Homo sapiens: one gene and its partner. The protein of the gene in region 1 purifies or fractionates together with the protein of each later gene. This does not show direct contact. Each region holds a gene or a part of one and is shown on either strand. Other genes may lie near its edges.

Region 1 (3,754 bases):
TCCTGCAAGAAAATGTGATGGCCCCAGGGCTACATGTGGATTTCTGATGCTGGAGTTTGAAAAACTTACATAAATAGATTGATTGTTGAGAATGGGAGCATATTGACATAAGATTCATTCTGCCTCTTGTTAGCCATTTTATTTTAAAAATATTTCCTGAACACATTTTCAGTACCCTGTCCTGCGGCCATAGTATAAGTATCTAGAGAGATTCCAAACACAGGAAAGAGATTCAAATTGTCCCATGCTAGGGGAAAAAGAAATATCAGTCTAGGGCGGTGAGGGGCAGTCTTTAGAATTGTAATATCCTTTTATTGTGGAACAACCATGAGATTCATCCATGTTTCACAAAGCCAAACCTGGGAATAAGGCTTACCTTGGCCTCCTGAAGTGCTGGGATTACAGGCGTGTGCCACCGCGCTTGGCCCTAATTTTTTTATTTCAATAGCTTTTGGTGTACAAGCGGTTTTTGGCTACATGGATTAATTGTATAGTGGTGAAGTCTGAGATTTTAGTGCACCCATCACCCAAGTAGTGGACATTGTACCCAATGTGTAGTTTTTTATCCCTCACCCCTCTCCAAACCTCCCCACTTCTGAATCTCCAAAGTCCAGTATACCACTTTGTGTTTTGTTTTTTTTTTGGTTGTTGTTTTGTTTTTTTTTTTTGAGACGGAGTCTCATTCTGTTGCCCAGGCTGGAATGCAGTGGCACGATCTCGACTCACTGCAACCTCCGCCTCACGGGTTCAAGCAATTCTGCTGCCTCAGCCTCCTGAGTAGCTGGGATTACAGTCGCCCACCACCACGCCTGGCTCATTTTTGTATTTTCAGTAGATAGAGAGTTTCACCATGTTGGTCAGAGTGGTCTCGAACTCCTGACTTCGTGATCCACCCACCTCGGCCTCCCAGAGTGCTGGGATTACAGGTGTGAGCCACCGTGCCCGGCCAATATACCACTTTGTATACCTTTGTGTACCCATAGCTTAGCTCCCACTTATAAGTGAGAACGTATGGCATTTTGTTTTCCATTCCTGAGTTACTTCACTTAGAGGATAATGGCCTCCAGCTCCATCTAAGTTGCTGCAGAAGACATTATTTTATTATTTCTTATGGCTGAGTAGTGTTCTATGGTGTATATATTCCATATTTTCTTTATCTACTCATTGCTCGATGGGCACTTAGGTTGGTTCCATATCTTTGCAATTATGAATTATGAAACATGCGTGCAGGTATCTTTTTGATATAACGACTTCTTTTCCTTTGGGTAAACACCTCGTAGTGGGATTGCTGGATCAAATGGTAGATTTACTCTTAGTTCTTTGAGAAATCTCCATATGTTTTCCATAGAGGTTGTACTGATTTACATTCCCATCAGCAGTGTATAAGGATTCTCTTTTTACCACATCCGTGCCAACATCTATTGTCTTTTGACTTTTTAATAGTGGCCATTCTGGCTGGGGTGAGGTGGTAGCTCACCATTTTGACTTGCATTTCCCTGATGATTAGTGATTTTGAGCATTTTTTCATATGTTTGTTAGCCATTTGTATATCTTCTCAAATCCCATTGAGAAATGTCTATTCATGTCATTTGCCCACTTTTTGATGGGATTGTTTTTTTCTTTCTGATTTGTTTGAGCACCTTGTAGATTCTGGATATTAGTCCTTTGTTAGATACATAGTTTGCAAATACTTTCTCCCATTCCATGGGTTGTCTGTTTACTCTGATTATTTCTTTTGCTGTACGGAAGTTTTTAGTTTAATTAGATCCGATTTATTTATTTTTGTTATTGTTGCATTTACTTTTGGGATCTTAGTCATAAATTTTTTGCCTAGGCCGGGCACGGTGGCTCACGCCTGTAATCCCAGCACTTTGGGAGACCGAGGCAGGCAGATCACAAGGTCAAGAGATCGAGACCATCCTGGCCAACATGGTGAAACCCTGTCTCTAATAAAAATACACAAATTAGCTGGGCGTGGTGGCGCACACCTATAGTCCCAGCTACTCGGGAGGCTGAGACAGGAGAATCGCTTGAACCCAGGAGGCAGAGGTTGCAGTGAGCTGAAATCGCACCACTGCACTCTAGCCTGGGCAACAGAGCGAGACTCCATCTCAAAATAAAAATTGCCTAGGCCAATGTCTGGAAGAGTTTTTCCTAGGTTTTCTTTTAGAATTTTGAAGATTTCAAGTCTTATATCCATCTTGAGTTGATTTTTGTATAAGGTGAGAGATAGGGATCTAGTTTTATTCTTCTACAGGTGGCTAGCCAGTTTTCCCAGAACCATTTGTTACATAGGATGTCCTTTCCCCAATTTGTGTTGTTATATGCTTTGTCGAAGATCAGCTACAAACCTGGGAATAATTTTTTGAGGAAGGAAAGGCAATTCAGGTAGAAGGAGCTTCTGAGGAAAGACAGAAAGAAGAGTCAGAAGAGAGCTTGCATGATAGCTAAGAAATATCTTGCAAAAACAAAAGGGATTTTGTTAATGATGTACTGGAGGAAAAAGATATGAGAAAAACATAGGTGGAGTGATAGAAAGATAGGGAGTAATGTGAAATTTGCCAGGAAGCCACCAAAGATAGGATAGCAATGCTTGCAGCCATGGCCTAGGGGATGAAAATTCTGCATGTGGTAGCCAAAGCATCTGTTTAATGATGATAAGGAGAAGAGGCAACAATTGGATAAAGCTATAGAACGAGATCCCTTGGCTTGTTGGTGCTGTATGACAAGGGCTTCTAAGAAACTTTCATGAAAGTCAGGCATGGTGGCTCACACCTATAATCCCAGCGCTCTGAGAGGCCGATGTGGGAGGGTCACGTGTAGGCCAAGAGTTTGAGACCAGCCTGGGCAACATAGTGAGACTGTCTTTACAAATACATTTTTAAAAATTAGCCTGAAGTGGTAGATGCCTGTAATCTCAGCTACCAGGGGGCTGAGGTGGGAGGATTGCTTGAGCCTAGCAGTTGTTCAAGGTTACAGTGAGCTGTGATCATGCCACTGCACTCCAGCCTGGGTGACAGAGCAAGACCTTGTTGAGAAAGAGAGAGAGGAAGGAAGAGAAAGAGAGAGAGCAATTTGGGAGGCCGAGGCAGGCAGATCACATGAGGTCAGGAGTTCAAGACCATCCTGGCCAACATGACAAAATCCTGTTTCTACTAAAAATACAAAAATTAGCCACGTGTGATGGTGTGCGCCTGTAATCTCAGCTACTTGGGAGGCTGAGGCAGGAGAATCGCTTGAACCCAGGAGGCGGAGCTTGCAGTGAGCTGAGTGAGATCGTGCCACTGCACTCCAGCCTGGGTGACAGAGCGAGACTCCGTCTCAAAAAAAAAAAGAAAGAAAGAAAAAGTGTAATGAAGACAGTGATGATTTTGATTAGTGAAGACTGGCTTGGAAAGTTAATGATCTTCTCTAAAGTCAGTTAAGAAGTTTTCATCTCTGAAGAAAATAAGAGTCATTTCTGTTGCCTATGGCATGGACTGGGAGACAGCGGCAGAAGGGACGTGTTAGTGCCTGTTTCTGCTTGCCCTATTGAAATCACACCTGACCAGGGACTCAGCATACTTAGAGAGAGGAAGACCTTTTCCGGCCCAAAAGAGTACCTTCCACTTTGACAACTGAGGCCAGACAATATGAAGATTGTTTTTATTGTTAAATAACCTATATCAAAGAGAATCCACTGATAACAGCAATAATTAAAAACTTAAATGTATGCTATGGATAACCCTTTTTATATCCTCAAGGAGAAAACAAA
Region 2 (3,754 bases), about 27 Mb from region 1:
GTATGCATTGACGAGGAGTTTGTGACTGTTTTTCATTATATTCTTCTGATAAGTCAATTAATGGCATGTCATTTTACTTCTATAAGCTGATTTTCCACATTTGTATAAAGTGGAGGTTATGGGTATGGGTGTGAGAGACGGGAGTTTAGGTTGGAACAACTTCTAACTTCTCTTCCAGTTGTAAATACTGTATAACATAATGGAAGCAAAATGCTTCCATGGCTCCATAACCATGTCTATATTCATTTGTTCACCATTGACTTGTCTCTTACTGTGGGGATTTCCTGTTATATACATGCTGCACATAGATTTCCAAAAGATTCAGTTATAATCTAAAACATTTATAGTAATTTGCTTGGCTATTACACATTTAAAATTTATCGGAAGTGTCTTGATCAAACAAGAATTTAGGTTGGCTTTCAAAGAATGTGAACAAGGCTGAATATAAATAGGATTGGGGTCATTTATCAGTATCCATTCTTTTATTTCATTAGCTGAATTAATGTCTAAGCATTCAGTCCAAGAAATATATGTAGCTCTTCTATTTTATTAATGGTTTAGCCTTAATCCTATCTTCCTTTTAGTTTGCAATAAGTACAAAATAGTTACAAATTCTAGAAGATTGTTATTGTCTACCTCCTATGAAGTACTTAAGCAATACAATAAATAGAGCTGTCATTCTTTGTCTTCTACTTGCTCTTTTCTGGATATTTGGTTATATGACTGTTTTTTCCTTTACTACTGTCTAATCTAGTTCACAATGATTTTTGTGTTCTTAAAGAGAAAATGTCAATGACTTAAATTATATCACCATAACTTTTATAATCAGATGATCAGAGAATATAGGATTAAAGCTAATAAATGCAGGGTCCTTTGAAATCCTCACATAAAAGGAAACAGCAAAAGTACCAGCTTTATCTGGTATCTGACTGAGAAAATCAACCAATGTATATTGGTTTTGCACTTTACATGGTAATGTTGTCATTTATTTTTAGATATCCTTGGAACAGAAGATCTTATTGTGGAAGTGACTTCCAATGATGCTGTGAGATTTTATCCCTGGACCATTGATAATAAATACTATTCAGCAGACATCAATCTATGTGTGGTGCCAAACAAATTTCTTGTTACTGCAGAGATTGCAGAATCTGTCCAAGCATTTGTGGTTTACTTTGACAGCACACAAGTAAGACTTTGTTTTCTATGAAGGCTTGAATAAGAAATTATTGCATGCCTTCTTTTTTTCCCATTACATTTTGTCTGACTATCTCTTTTCTGTTTTTGTTTGTTTATATTTTTTGTTCCCTCTAGAAATCGGGCCTTGATAGTGTCTCCTCATGGCTTCCACTGGCAAAAGCATGGTTACCTGAGGTGATGATCTTGGTCTGCGATAGAGTGTCTGAAGATGGTAAGGCCTGTGGATGGGACAGTAGTTGGTACATGCATTTGCCATTCCTTGATAAACAGAGTACATCTGTTTCTTTAACTTAGGACATACATCCCATGTGACTTTATGGCTTTATGAAAATATTTTCAGCTATTTTTCTTTGGAATCTTGTAATACTTACTTTTTTTTTAAGAATGGATACTTCGGGGCTGAGAAGTCATTTTCTTTTTATTATTTTAGATGCCTTTAGAATAACATTGACATTAAGGGAAACACATTGAGATTTGTGAAGAATATTGCAGGAATAGTCATGTTTTATTTTCTTTTTACTTATGAAGATTCTTTTGCATATTATTTTAGGTATAAACCGACAAAAAGCTCAAGAATGGTGCATCAAACATGGCTTTGAATTGGTAGAACTTAGTCCAGAGGAGTTGCCTGAGGAGGATGGTAAGTGTTTATGTGTTAGGAGAAAATATGGCACTTAGATATGAGAGATTATTTTAATTCAGGGAAGAAGAATCACAGCAAAATTCAAGAAACTTTTTTCCCCAGCTGTTTCAAGGATTTAAGCAAAATCCATTGATGTAATCTTATAATCTTACACTTAGTGTAATAATTCATTTTTTTGGTTTTACCACCTGTTTTAGAACTTTTGAAAATGTGTGTTTTTCTTATGGATAAAGGTATAGGGCTGCTTTCTAAAATCTTTGTCATTTCCATAATCCTTTTTCCTTTCCCTACTGCTGAAGAAGGAGAGTTAGACCTTCGTAGTAGTTAAAGTTGATGTTTCTTATTTTGAATTCATAGTAACCTAAGGCTGAATTCCCAAGAATCGCAGGGGACATTTCAAATCCATTTGAATGTCTTTTGGACATTTGAAGCCAAAAGATAGACCCCAAATTTAATCCCCCACCTCCACCCCAGGTAGCTCTGCAATCGCTGTCCTCCGCTATTGCTGGACCTTCTATTTCTTCCCCTCTTCTACTCCCCTTCCCCATTTCTTTTCTCATCTTTTCTCCTTTGAAGTACACCTGTTTTGGTATCTACCAGGATAAGAGGGTTTTTGGTTCACCAAAACCTTATAATCTGGTACAAGAGATGAAACTTACAGATAATTGAATTACCAAGTGGAATGTCATAAGTATTATAGAAGAAATAGTAGTGCTGTGGTATTTTAGAGACCGGAGAGCTTATTTTTGTTTAAAAGTGCAGAGAACGTGTTGGCATTGTGACCTCTCACATGTCAGCTGCTCCATGGGGAAGAAGTTAGAAAAGGTCCTGGGCTTGTAGTGAGAGGACTGCTGGAGAGGTGGCATTGTGAATATGCCAGTTGTTCCAAAAGACATTCTGGGCAGGGGCAACCAACGTGAATTAAAGTACATAGATAAGACATAAGCAGTCATTTCAAGAAACTTGTATTTTTCTTCAAGGAATTAAGAAATATTTTTCTATATTCTGGTTTTATTTATAATTTTTCCAAAATGCTGTTACCTTTGAGAATAAAACCTGCTGGAGAAGAAGAGAACAAAACTGAAATAAAAACTCTGGTTTTTCTCCTTGCTCATTTTAAAGAGTGTTGAAAATTAGCATGTACATCTTTTTCTGTGTTTTTCTAGGTCCCTGAAACTTGTGCCCTGTTTTGTGTATGTGAGCCTGTGTGATTTCTGGCACTAGAATTTTCTCTTTCTCTTGTCCTTGGGAGTCAGTATTTGACTGTTATCATTTTGGAATCTCTGCTCCTTTATACTACTTTATTTCTCGTAGCCCTTTGTCTGAATAATGTTCTTGTATTCATTCAGCTTAATCTTAAAATGGGTTTTTTGATATGTCATCTTTAGGTAAGGTAATGAAAACCTTCCTAGACTTTTAAAATACAAATTATTCCTAAGCCATATTTCCTCATCTTTTACTTGCATGTATTATTCAAACATGAATATAGGACTTTATGCTAGTTTGTATTAATTTTCCTCTTACTGGTACTAGCTCTTCATTTCAGACCACATTTTTGGTTCCTGGTTATATCATCTAAAGTATTAGTTATTCTTTTGAGAATTAAGTCATTCACAATTAAGATAAACATGACTTTTAGGTCTTCATCCAGACATTGGTGGTGATAAACTTATCTTGGTAGAGTATTTTCTTTCTTTATTTTTATTTATTTATTTATTTATTTGAGACAGAGTCTCTCTCTGTTGCCCAGGCTGGAGTGCAGTGGCACGATCTCTGCTCACTGCAAGCTCCACCTCCTAGATTCACGCCATTCTCCTGCCTCAGCCTCCCAAGTAGCTGGGACTGCAGGCGCCCGCCACCACGCCTGGGTAATTTTTTTTTTTTTTTTTGTATTTTTAGTAGAGACGGTGTTTC

Evidence for each region. Proteins that work in one complex are often made in the same cells at the same time.
Region 2: the proteins of CCDC32 (region 1) and AAGAB purify together in Homo sapiens (affinity purification with mass spectrometry; 2 studies listed by BioGRID and IntAct, with this or other methods). This does not show direct contact.

What each region holds. Positions count from the first base shown.
Region 1 is NC_000015.10:40,558,387-40,562,140, reverse strand, and holds part of CCDC32 (coiled-coil domain-containing protein 32), read left to right. Parts: intron 1-3,754. UniProt on the Homo sapiens protein: Regulates clathrin-mediated endocytsois of cargos such as transferrin probably through the association and modulation of adaptor protein complex 2 (AP-2). Has a role in ciliogenesis. Required for proper cephalic and left/right axis development.
Region 2 is NC_000015.10:67,234,062-67,237,815, reverse strand, and holds part of AAGAB (alpha- and gamma-adaptin-binding protein p34), read left to right. Parts: intron 1-995; coding exon 996-1,186; intron 1,187-1,311; coding exon 1,312-1,408; intron 1,409-1,747; coding exon 1,748-1,837; intron 1,838-3,754. UniProt on the Homo sapiens protein: May be involved in endocytic recycling of growth factor receptors such as EGFR.